2 linked regions of the Homo sapiens genome follow. The protein of the gene in region 2 interacts with the protein of the main gene of each other region in a pairwise test. Each region holds a gene or a part of one and is shown on either strand. Other genes may lie near its edges.

What was found. The genes of interacting proteins can lie anywhere in the genome.
Region 1: the proteins of NFKBID (region 2) and PATZ1 interact in binary tests that used the Homo sapiens proteins (3 or more experiments, as listed by UniProt).

What each region holds. Positions count from the first base shown.
Region 1 is NC_000022.11:31,325,295-31,329,372, reverse strand, and holds the end of PATZ1 (POZ-, AT hook-, and zinc finger-containing protein 1 isoform long C), read left to right. Parts: intron 1-448; coding exon 449-586; intron 587-2,063; coding exon 2,064-2,482; 3' UTR 2,483-3,569; downstream 3,570-4,078. UniProt on the Homo sapiens protein: Transcriptional regulator that plays a role in many biological processes such as embryogenesis, senescence, T-cell development or neurogenesis. Interacts with the TP53 protein to control genes that are important in proliferation and in the DNA-damage response.
Region 2 is NC_000019.10:35,890,537-35,897,571, forward strand, and holds part of NFKBID (NF-kappa-B inhibitor delta), read right to left. Parts: intron 6,568-7,035; coding exon of another isoform or gene 6,523-6,567; coding exon 6,377-6,522; intron 6,296-6,376; coding exon 6,190-6,295; intron 6,003-6,189; coding exon 5,856-6,002; intron 5,734-5,855; coding exon 5,682-5,733; intron 5,593-5,681; coding exon 5,444-5,592; intron 2,632-5,443; coding exon of another isoform or gene 2,524-2,631; exon of another isoform or gene 2,167-2,523; intron 1-2,166. UniProt on the Homo sapiens protein: Regulates the expression of IL-2, IL-6, and other cytokines through regulation on NF-kappa-B activity. Functions in the regulation of inflammatory responses.

The DNA.
Region 1 (4,078 bases), on a different chromosome or scaffold from region 2:
GGATTAAGCAGGCATCCTGCTGGCTAGAATCCTGTGGCTTCCCTGGAGCCTCAAATTCTTGTCTAACCACATTTCTAGTCATGGTTCCTGCAGGAGACATCCACTCAAACCACCTGTTACTGAGGCACCAAGCAACCCTAGAGGCAGTTGGCCTCTGGCCCTAGCAGGAGCAGGATCTCAGGCCATCCCACCAGGCAGCCAGCCTCAGCCCCTCACCGCAGCCTTGCAGAGTGGGCTCTGCAGAGAAGCCGATTTGTGGACAGTGCCACCCTCCATCCTGAGTCACATGGCTCATGTGGTTGCAGCCATTTTTGAGCCAGGAGGGGGCCCCTTCTAGGTGCAGCTGACCTGGGAATGCTAGCCAGAGCGGCCAGAGGAGAGGAGTTGGGGGAAGGAGAGAGGTATCTCTTGCTGGCCGCGGGATCTCATCTCCTTTTGTCTTGTTTAGGTTTCTCCTCTGCCTCCTACTTAAAGGTCCATGTTAAAACCCACCACGGTGTTCCCCTTCCCCAGGTCTCCAGGCACCAGGAGCCCATCCTGAATGGGGGAGCAGCGTTCCACTGCGCCAGGACCTATGGCAACAAAGGCAAGCGACCCCTTGCTCTGCACTTTGCTTCTCTGCGCAGACTGTGTTGTGGGGGCGCTGGGCTGGGCGTGGGGAGGCGGGAAGGCTGCCGGCTTTCTGGCTGCCTTGAGGAGACTCAGAGATCTGAGTGGCAGTGGCCTCCAGGACAAAAGTCACAGTGGGTATCTCACTCCAGGGCAGTGAGTGAGGCTTTAGGGCACTGCCGAGATCCAGCCTCCGCCTCCTCTTCCCCAGCCCTCCTCCTTTCCTCCTGGCCAGCCCCCACTGTCTGGAGCCCTGCAGGGATGCCCCGGGCCCTGGGCAGAAGAAGAGCCCTGCATGATGAGTCACTATGGGCCTGTCACTGCCTGCTGCCCTTTAGGATGGTGTGGAGCTGCGGCTGAATGCTTTCTCCTCTTTTGACCCAGTGGGCCGGTGGGAGCCAATGTCTGGCTTCTCTCACAGTAGGAGTGGTTGGTTACTGTGAGTGGCCCTTTCTGGAGAGCCTCTGGCTATGGTTGTGAGATGCATGGCAATAATGAGCTATCTGACTCCTCTGACTTGGGAGTTGGTTTGCAGAAAGCTCCCCAGGCCCACCTTCACTTGTTGATTCAGGTTGTTTTGTGGTATGTCACGTTGTCGTTGCCTTGGGGATGAGGCCAGGGGCTTGGCAGATGGTAGAAACAGCAGAGATGGCATGCTCCATGCTCCCATCACAGACCTCCCTTCCCGGCATGGCTCTCTGGACCCAGGCAGGAAGCTGCTGATTGGTGGAGGACTCCAGTGTGGGCCGGGCAAGGCAGAGCAGCCAGGGTTGTCTCTTGGCCCAGCTTGTCTGGGGCCTAGGGTGGGGACACCCAGCCGACTGAGTAGTACAGAGTTGCTTTCAATCTCTGTGCTTGGGCTGCTTGGCCCTGAAAAGGTTTTGGCAGAAGGAAGGCGGTAAGGACAGGGCTATGTTTGCAGCATTAGGAAAAGGATTGGCTTCTGTCTGAGCCATTGATGGGGTCTACCCAGGTTGAGGACCTAATGGCTCTGGTTCTGCCTGTCTTGCTAGGGTGCAGCTAGTCTGGTGCAGGAGGCGAGGCTACTATTACACTGGCTCGGCATCATCAGAATACCAATTTTACCCTCAGAGGCACCCAAAAGAGCGCCTAGGAGTTGGGGGTCTTTGAGTTGTTCTGGGCAGCTGTAGCAGAGTTGCCCTCTCTGTATCCCTTCCTTGAAGCAGGCTGAGATGACGGTGAGCAGTACATGTGCAGCTGCATGAAGAGTCCACAGCAAGGGAGGCTGGCAGCCCTAGGGCCCTGCCGTTTCACCCCTGTAGGCACTCCAGGCTCCCAGACTGACCAGCTGACCCTCCGTGGGTTCTGCCAGGGCAGTGGCTGGCCAATGGCTGCCCTCCACAGGTCTGTGAGCTGGCCCCTCATGACCCCTCCAGGAGGGGGCATCTCCAGAGCCTGGCCTCATCGCTCTCCTATATTTTGTTTTTTCGTAGAAGGCCAGAAATGCTCACATCAGGATCCGATTGAGAGCTCTGACTCCTATGGTGACCTCTCAGATGCCAGCGACCTGAAGACGCCAGAGAAGCAGAGTGCCAATGGCTCTTTCTCCTGCGACATGGCAGTCCCCAAAAACAAAATGGAGTCTGATGGGGAGAAGAAGTACCCATGCCCTGAATGTGGGAGCTTCTTCCGCTCTAAGTCCTACTTGAACAAACACATCCAGAAGGTGCATGTCCGGGCTCTCGGGGGCCCCCTGGGGGACCTGGGCCCTGCCCTTGGCTCACCTTTCTCTCCTCAGCAGAACATGTCTCTCCTCGAGTCCTTTGGGTTTCAGATTGTTCAGTCGGCATTTGCGTCATCTTTAGTAGATCCTGAGGTTGACCAGCAGCCCATGGGGCCTGAAGGGAAATGAGGCAGCTGCTGTGTCCCCACGGAAACAACCATCTGGGGACTGCTGGGAAATGCTGTGAATGCGGAGGGAAGTGATGTTTGGGTTCTGTAGCTGAGAGATTTTTATTCATTTTTAACTGCCCCCCAACCCCACTCCAACTCCTTCTCCACCACCCATTCTCCCAATGGTCTTTAGAAATAGATTTTCATCTGATATTCTGCAGAAATATCAATGAGACTTGGTATGGGACAGGGGCAGAAAACACTACATAGGCCTCCAAGGCAAAACCAGTCCCAGTTTCTTTAATGGGAAGAAGCTGGAATTCCTGGTGCTCAATTCTTAGTGACCCCAATCCTATACCCAAATCTATGATATTCTGGGACCTCAGTGATTTTGGTCCCCTCCCACTTCTCTAGTTCGTCATCCTCCCTTCCCATATCCTTCAAAAGAACCACACTAGGGTCTCCACCTACTTATACAATGCGGATGCCCAACTGTTTTTAAGGAAGCCAGAAGCATCCCATGGACCATGGGGTGAGTGTCCTCCAAGAGCCCCCTGAGCTCAGCCCTCTGCCTGGAGGGCTCCAGACCTTTCTGAGCCCTGCTTGGAGGCGAGCATTTTCACTGCTAGGACAAGCTCAGCTGTTGAGGACACCCCCACCCCAAATTTCAGTTCTTACGTGATTTTAACCATTCAACATGCTGTTGGGTTTTAATTCTCTAATTATTATTATTATTGTTATTATTTTTTAGGACCAGTTGTAGTGAATTGCTACTGAAAGCTATCCCAGGTGATACAGAGCTCTTTGTAAACCGCAGTCACACATTAGGGTTAGTATTAAACTTTGTTTAGATGTACCATAATTAACTTGGCTAGTTGATTGTTTGAAGTCTATGGAAGAAATAGTTTTATGCAAAATTTTAAAAAATGCCAGTCTGGTCAGGGAAGTAGGGGGTTTCAATGCTGTTGGGAACCAGGAAGGTGGGACAGCCGGCAGGTAGGGACATTGTGTACCTCAGTTGTGTCACATGTGAGCAAGCCCAGGTTGACCTTGTGATGTGAATTGATCTGATCAGACTGTATTAAAAATGTTAGTACATTACTCTATCTGCTCCCTTGAGTCCAGTTTTTCAGCTGTGGGGGTCTTTGGGACCCAGAGGTGGGCAGTCCATACCCCAGCACCTGGGGTGGGAGTGGGATCCCAGGAGACCCCTTTTCCACTTCATTGCACCAGTTCCACTGGGATTGACAGGTAGATGGTCCCACTGAAGACTTAGAATGCCAGAATTCACCCATGTGTTCAACAAATATCCACTGCTTGTCTTCACTGCTTGTGTGCCAGGCATGGTTTCATGCTCTTGAGATATGGTGGTGAACAAGACACCACTGTGAGGCTTAATGGGATAGACAGACAACTTAAATATGAGTTCAGATAATGAGAAATACAAGGAGAAGAACTGGGCAAGGTGAGGGGACAGTGACAGCAGGAGGGTGAGTAGGGTGGACCAGGGAGGTGTGAAGTGGGGTTGGGGCTCTGGGAGGGAAGGCTTATAGAGGGGATCTGACACAGCCTACCCAGCTAGCACCTGAGGAGGGATGTGGGCAGGGACTCCTCA
Region 2 (7,035 bases):
GTGCCCTCCCACAGAATCCAGGAGTCTTTAAAGACCCTGACCCTTGGCGGAGTGCGGTGGTTCACGCCTGTAATCCTAGCACTTTGGGAAGCTGAAGAAGGAGGATCACTTGAGGCCAGGAGCTGCAGACCAGCCTGGACAACACAGCAAGACCTCATCTCTACAAAAAATAGAAAAATTAGCCAGGCGTGGTGGTGCGCACCTGTAGTCCCAGCTGCTTGGGAGGCTGAGGCAGGAGGTTCATTTGAGCCTAGGAGTTCACGGCTGCAGTGGGCCATGACCACACCACTGCACTCCAGCATGGGTGACAGAGTGACACTCTATCTCAAAATTAATAAATAAATAAATAAGATGCTGGCCCTCTTCTGCGAGCCCCACCAAGAGTGCCTTATTCAGTTGTATGTCTTGTGCACCGCACAACACCACGTCTCAGGGTGTACCATTCACACCATACACCTTCCAGAACTGTACATTTCTCATGACAATTTTCCCACCAGTGTCTGAGAAAGAGACTCCTTTTCCAGTTCTTCAAAGCAACTGCCTTGGCTACCTGCCCTCCATTCAACACATTAAATTGCATCCCGACCCACACAGACTGTACTTTATCTACAAGCACAGGAGTTGGCAGCATTAATCAGTGGACTAGCTAATATTGCAATACTGCACCACAATATTGAGCTGTTCCCATCATATTTGGGGGAAAATAAAAGACATTTTCTAAAATGAAACCTTTTTATGTGTCTTTAAGGAGTTTGTAACGATAATGAATGTTAAACATTTTATGTGCTGATAACAGGGCAAAACCACCTAGTTTGCTCGTCCAAAAAATGATGAAGACAAAACCAAAGCTCTAGATTAAGAGTGATTTGAAAAGACGTAACATCATAATATGTGTGCTTATTTGGATCTTGATTTTTTTTAATGAAAAAAATTATCATTTTACAGCCAAAAGGAAATTTGAATACAGCCAGGATATTTGGTATTACAAGAAAATCTTTAATTTTTTAAAGACAGAGCAATGATACTGAGGTTTAAAAAGTTCTTTTTTTTCGAAGGGCACAGGGGCTCATGCCTGTAATCCCAGCACTTTGGGAGGCCAAGGAGGGCGGATCACTTGAGGTCAAGAGTTCGAGACCAGCCTGGCCAACATGGTGAAACCGTCTCTACTAAAAATACAAAAATTAGCCAGGCGTGGTGGCACATGCCTATAATCCCAGCTACTTGGGAGGCTGAGACACAGGAATAGCTTGAACCCGGGAGGCAGAGGTTGCAGTGAGCCAAAATCACACCATTGCAATCCAGCCTGGGCAACAGAGTGAGACTCCGTCTCAAAAAAAAAAAGCTATGTTTTTTGTTTGTTTTTTGAGACAGGGTCTCGCTCTGTTGCCCAGGCTGGAGTGCAGTGGTGTGACCAAGGCTCACTGTAGCCTCAACCTACTGGGCTCGAGTGATCCTCCCACCTTAGCCTCCCCAAGCACTGGGATTACAGGGAAAGAGTTCTTATCTTTTATTATTGTTGTTGTTGTTGTTGAGAGACAGGGTCTTGCTCTGTCACCCAGGCTGGAGTGTGGTGGCAAAATCATGGCTCACTGCAGCCTTGACCTCCCCAGGTTCAGGTGATCCTCCCACCTCAGCCTCCTGAGTACCTGGGACCACAGGCATGTGCCATCAAGCCCAGCTAATTTTTGTATTTTTTTTAGAGATGGGGTCTCCCTATGTTGCCCAGGTTGGTCTCGAATTCCTGAGCTCGAGCAGTCCGCCCACCTGAGCCTCCCAAAGTGCTTGGATTACAGGCATGAGCCACCGCACCCAGCCATCTTTCTTATTTTTAAAAAACTTATTATTATTACTAAAAATACAAAAATTAGTGGGGTGTGATAGCACATGCCTATAGTCCCAGCTACTCGGGAGGCTGAGGCAGGAGAATCACTTGAACCTGGGAGGTTGCAGTGAACCAAGACTGTGCCACTGCACTCCAACCTGGGCGACAGAGCGAGACTCCATCTCAAAAAAAAAAAAAAAATTATTTGTCCTTTTTTCAGAGAAATACTCCCTGATTTCTGAGTTCTCCCAGAACCCTACCACACAGTTAATTCTTCCTCTTCATCATTTCTTGCTCAACTTAAATGTAATTTCCTCAGAATGACCTTCATTGTGAGCCCCGCATCCAATATAAAGCCAATCTTTTTATTGTCTAAGAGCTCCTTCTACATTCCCAAGGCAGCTCTCATCCCAATTTGTAATTATGTTCAGTTCTTTGTTTACTTATCATCTCCTCTCTTTTCCATTAAATTTTAATGTCTAAAAGTACAAGAAAGTGGTCTTTTCTTATTAAAACATTATAGGTAGCTGGGCACAGCAGCTCACGCCTGTAATCCCAGCACTTGGGAGGCCAAGGCTGGGGGATCACTTGGGCCCAGGAGTTCGAGACCAGCCTGGGCAACATAGTGAGACCCCCCCTCTCTACAAAAAATATAAAACAATTAGCCGGGTGAGGTGGCTCATGCCTGTAGTCCCAGCTACTTAGGAGGCTGAGGTGGAAGGAATGTTTGAGGTCAGGAAGTCGAGGCTGCAGTGATTCGTGATCGCACCACAGCACTCCAGCCTGGGTGACAAAGCCAGACTCTGTCTCTAAAAAACAAACAAACAAAAAGCAACTTTATGCCCCATCACTAGCACACTGGTAGCTACATCATATGTGTCCAAAATTCTGAGTGAAGAAACGAATGAATTACCAAAGTATCAATTTCACCTTCTCTGTATTGCCCAAATGATCACTTAGCTCTACTTTGCAACCATTAAGAGCCTAGATTACCATCATTCATTTCCTAACCCCGCTAATAATGCCTTATCTTGTCTCTACTCAGTCATGCCCGTCCTTCTTACAGTCCATCCCCACCATCTAGCTAATTCTGCTAAACACCATTATTCTTTAAAGATACACAAATATTTTTGAAAAAAATACATGTTGGAATTTGCTTAAAAATCACATGAAAGTGAGAGGCCACGCACAGTGGCTCACGCCTGTAATCCCAGCACTTTGGGAGGCCGAGGCGGGTGGATCACGAGGTCAGGAGATCGAGACCATCCTGGCTAACACGGTGAAACTGCGTCTCTACTAAAAATGCAAAAATTTAGCCGGGCGTGGTGGCGGGTGCCTATAGTCCCAGCTACTCAGGAGGCTGAGGCAGGAGAATGGTGTGAACCCGGGAGGCGGAGCTTACAGTGAGCCGAGATCGCACCACTGCACTCCAGCCTGGGTGACAGAGCGAGAGCCATCTCAAAAAAAAAAAAAAAATCACTTGAAAGTGAGAGAGTGGATGGGGCAGGACTGGCCATGAGTGGCTGGTTATTGATGTTGGACATATGGAGTTCATTCCACTATTTTCTATATTTTATTGGTGTTCAACATTCTTTAACTAAAAAAACATTTTTCGGCTGGGCGCAGTGGCTTATGCCTGTAATCCCAGCACTTTGGGAGGCCAAGGCGGGCGGCTCACCTGAGGTCAGGAGTTTGAGAGAACAGCCTGGCCAACATAGGGAAACCCCGTCTCCATTAAAAATACAAAAAAATTAGCCAAGCGTGGTGGTGCATGCCTGTAGTCCCAGTTACTCAGGAGGCTGAGGCAGGAGCATGGCTTGAACCCGGGAGGCAGAGGTTGCAGTAAGCCGAGATCATGCCACTGCACTCCAGCCTGGGTGACAGAGTGAGATTCCATCTCAATAAATAAATAAACATTTTTTGTGGATGTTTAATTCTCTCAGCCAGCCTATGAAGGAGCTACTGTCACAGGAAAGGAACAGAACATAATTAAAAGCTAGGTTCTAAAGTCAGACTACCTGGGTTCTAATTCTCTCTCTGACAGTCACAAGCTATAAGATTTTTCAGGCTGGGTGCAGTGGCTCACAACTGTAATCCCAGCACTTTCAGAGGCAGAGGTGGAAGGATTGCTTGAGCTCAGGAGTTTGAGACCAACCTGGCCAACATAGTTAGACCCCACCTTACAAAAAAGTTGCCACGCATGGTGGTGCATGCCTGTGATCACAGCTACTTGGGAGGCTGAGGTGGGAGGATCACTTAAGTGCACAAGGTCAAGGCTGCAATAAGCTGTGATCATGCCACTGCACTCCAGCCTGAGTGACAGAGTGAGACCCTGTCTCAAAGAGATTTTTGAGGCCAGGTGCAGTGGCTCACGCTTGCAATCCCAGCATTTTGGGAAGCCGAGGCAGGAAGATCACCTGAGGTCGGGAGTTCGAGACCAGCCTGACCAACATGGAGAAACCCTGTCTCTACTAAAAATACAAAATTAGCTGGACGTGGTGGTGGGAACCTGTAATCCCAGTTACTCGGGAGGCTGAGGCAGGAGAATCGCTTGAACCCAGGAGGCGGAGGTTGTGGTGAGCCGAGATCACACCATTGCACTCCAGCCTGGGCAACAAGAGCAAAACTCCATCTCAAAAAGAAAAAAAAAAAGATTTTTGATTTCCCATGCCTGTTTCCTTTTCAGTAAAATAGAGAAAATAGAGTACACATGTCAAAGGGTGTTTGTGAGGTTTCAATAAGCTAATCTATGAAACTCAGTGCTTGATGAATGAATAGTAAGTGCTTGATAACATACCCTAAGGTCAGTAATATTATTCCCAGTTAACAACTAGGGGCCAGGCACAGTGGCTCACGCCTGTAATCGCAGCACTTTGGGAGGCCAAGGTGGGAGGATCATTTGAGGTCAGGAGTTTGAGACCAGCCTGGCCAACACAATGAAAGCCCACTTCTACTAAAATACAAAAAAAAAAAAAAAAAAATAGCCAGGCATGGTGGCGTGCGCCTATAGTCCCAGCTACTCAGGAGGCTAAGACAGGAGAATCACTTGAACCTGGGAGGCAGAGTTTGCCATGAGATGAGATTGCACCACTGCACTCTAGCCTGGGCGACAGAGTGAGACCCTGTCTCAAAAACAAAAAAACAAACAAACAAAAAAACCCTGCTGGGCGCGGTGGCTCACGCCTGTAATCACAGCACTTTGGGAGGCCAAGGCAGGTGGATCACCTGAGGTCGGGAGTTCGAGACCAGCAAGACCAATGTGGAGAAAGCCTGTCTCTACTAAAAATACAAAAAAATTAGCCAGGCGTGGTGACTCATGCCTGTAATCCCAGCTACTCAGGAGGCTGAGGCAGGAGAATCACTTGAACCCGGGATGCAGAGGTTGCGGTGAGCCAAGATCACACCATTGCACTCCAGCCAGGGCAACAAGAGCAAAACTCCATCTCAAAACAAACAAAGAAACAAACAAAAAACCCCTAAGGCACAGAGAAGTGAAGTAACATGTTCAAGGGCACGCAGCAAGGAAGAGGCAAAGTCAGCATTTGCCTGGAGCTCCCGGACATCCAAGTGGCCCCATTCCACACAATCTCCCAGGGTCTGACCGCCCACATCCCCGCTCACCTGGCTGGTGTGATTAGCACCCATTTGCAGCAACATGTGGACACAATCCAGCCTGTCTCGGGCCTGTGTGCTCAGCACCCGGGGACAGAGGTCGGAAGGGCGCATAGCAACGTTAAGGGCCAGGATGGCCGTGTGGAGCGGGGTGAGGCCTGCAGAATGGAGACAGTGAGGGACCCGCATCTGCACCCACCTCGCCCAGCCACACCAACCACACCAGCCCTGCCCACACCCAACTTACCCTCGAAGTCTCTGGCTTCCAGGTCAACCTGGACCCCAGAGTTAAGCACAGCCTGGGAGGAAGAGAAGGCAGACTGCTGGGTAAGGGTATCCCCTGGCCTCCTGGCCCTGGAAGCCAAAATCTGGGCAACCAGTCTACCCCCCAGACAAACCCCTGCCTGCCAGCTGGCCATACCAAGAGAACTCCTGGGAGCCCGTAGGTAGCGGCCACGTGCAAGACCGAACGTCCCTGATGGTCAGCGGCATTGGGCTCTGCTCCCAGGTTCAACAGATCCTCCACAATCAGGGGCTGGTTGGCAGCAGCCGCCACCAGGAGAGGGGTCTGCAGGCCACAGGAGAAGTCAGGTTGGGCTCCTGGTTCCCTCCCGTCAGAAAACCAGGCTCCCAGCCCCATCCCCCCTCAGCCCCAGGAGCTCACCCCCCATTCCCCTCTTCTCTAGGATCCAGGGGTCCAGGCCCCAGGCTCCTTCCTCCCCTGAACCCAGGAGAGTTCAGGCCCCAAGCCTCACCTTGCCCTTATGCTCACGAATGTCAAGACGCCGGTACACCTGGAGCACCTCAGCCGCAGCATATGCCGCCCAGCGCAGCCCCCGAGCCGCAAACAGGTGAAGGAGCCTGAGGACAGGTGGGGGACAGCCGTGAGAACAGCCCCCACCAAGCCAAGAGTCTGCAGACAACCCTATCCCTTATACTCACGTGTCCCCCTCCTCATCCTGGGCCAGCAGCTGCTGTGGCCCCAAAGCCAGCATGTGAGCTCGGGCCACCTCCAGCGATGGTCCAGGGACCACAGCGGGGAACTGTGGGGGTCCTGAAGGGGGTGCAGAAACTCTCCAGGGTCCAGCCTGTGGCAGAGAAGATCCTACATAGAACTGGGTGTCTGGGGGGTCCTGGAGGGTGCAGGTGGTGGGGAGACCCAGTCAGCTGAGAATTCCTCCATCCCAAGCCACCACACACACATCTGCATGCAGAGCCCCTGGGTATCCCATCTATGCCAAGTGACCTTGGACCTTTAGGCCTCAGTTTTGCCCACCTGGAAAAGGGTATTTTTTTTTTTCGGTGACAGAGTCTTGCTCTGTCACCCAGGCTGGAGTGCAGCAGTGCAATCTCTACTCACTGCAATCTCTACCTCCTGGGTTCAAGCAATTCCCCTGCCTCAGCCTCCCGAGTAGCTAGGATTACAGGCGTGCGCCACTACACCCAGCTAATTTTTTTATTTTTGGTTTCACCATGTTGGCCAAGCTGGTCTCAAACGCCTGACCTCAAGTGATCCGCCTGCCTCAGCCTCCCAAAGTGCTGGGATTACAGGTGTGAGCCACCACGCCCGGCCTGGAAAAGGGAATCGTAACTGAGCTCCA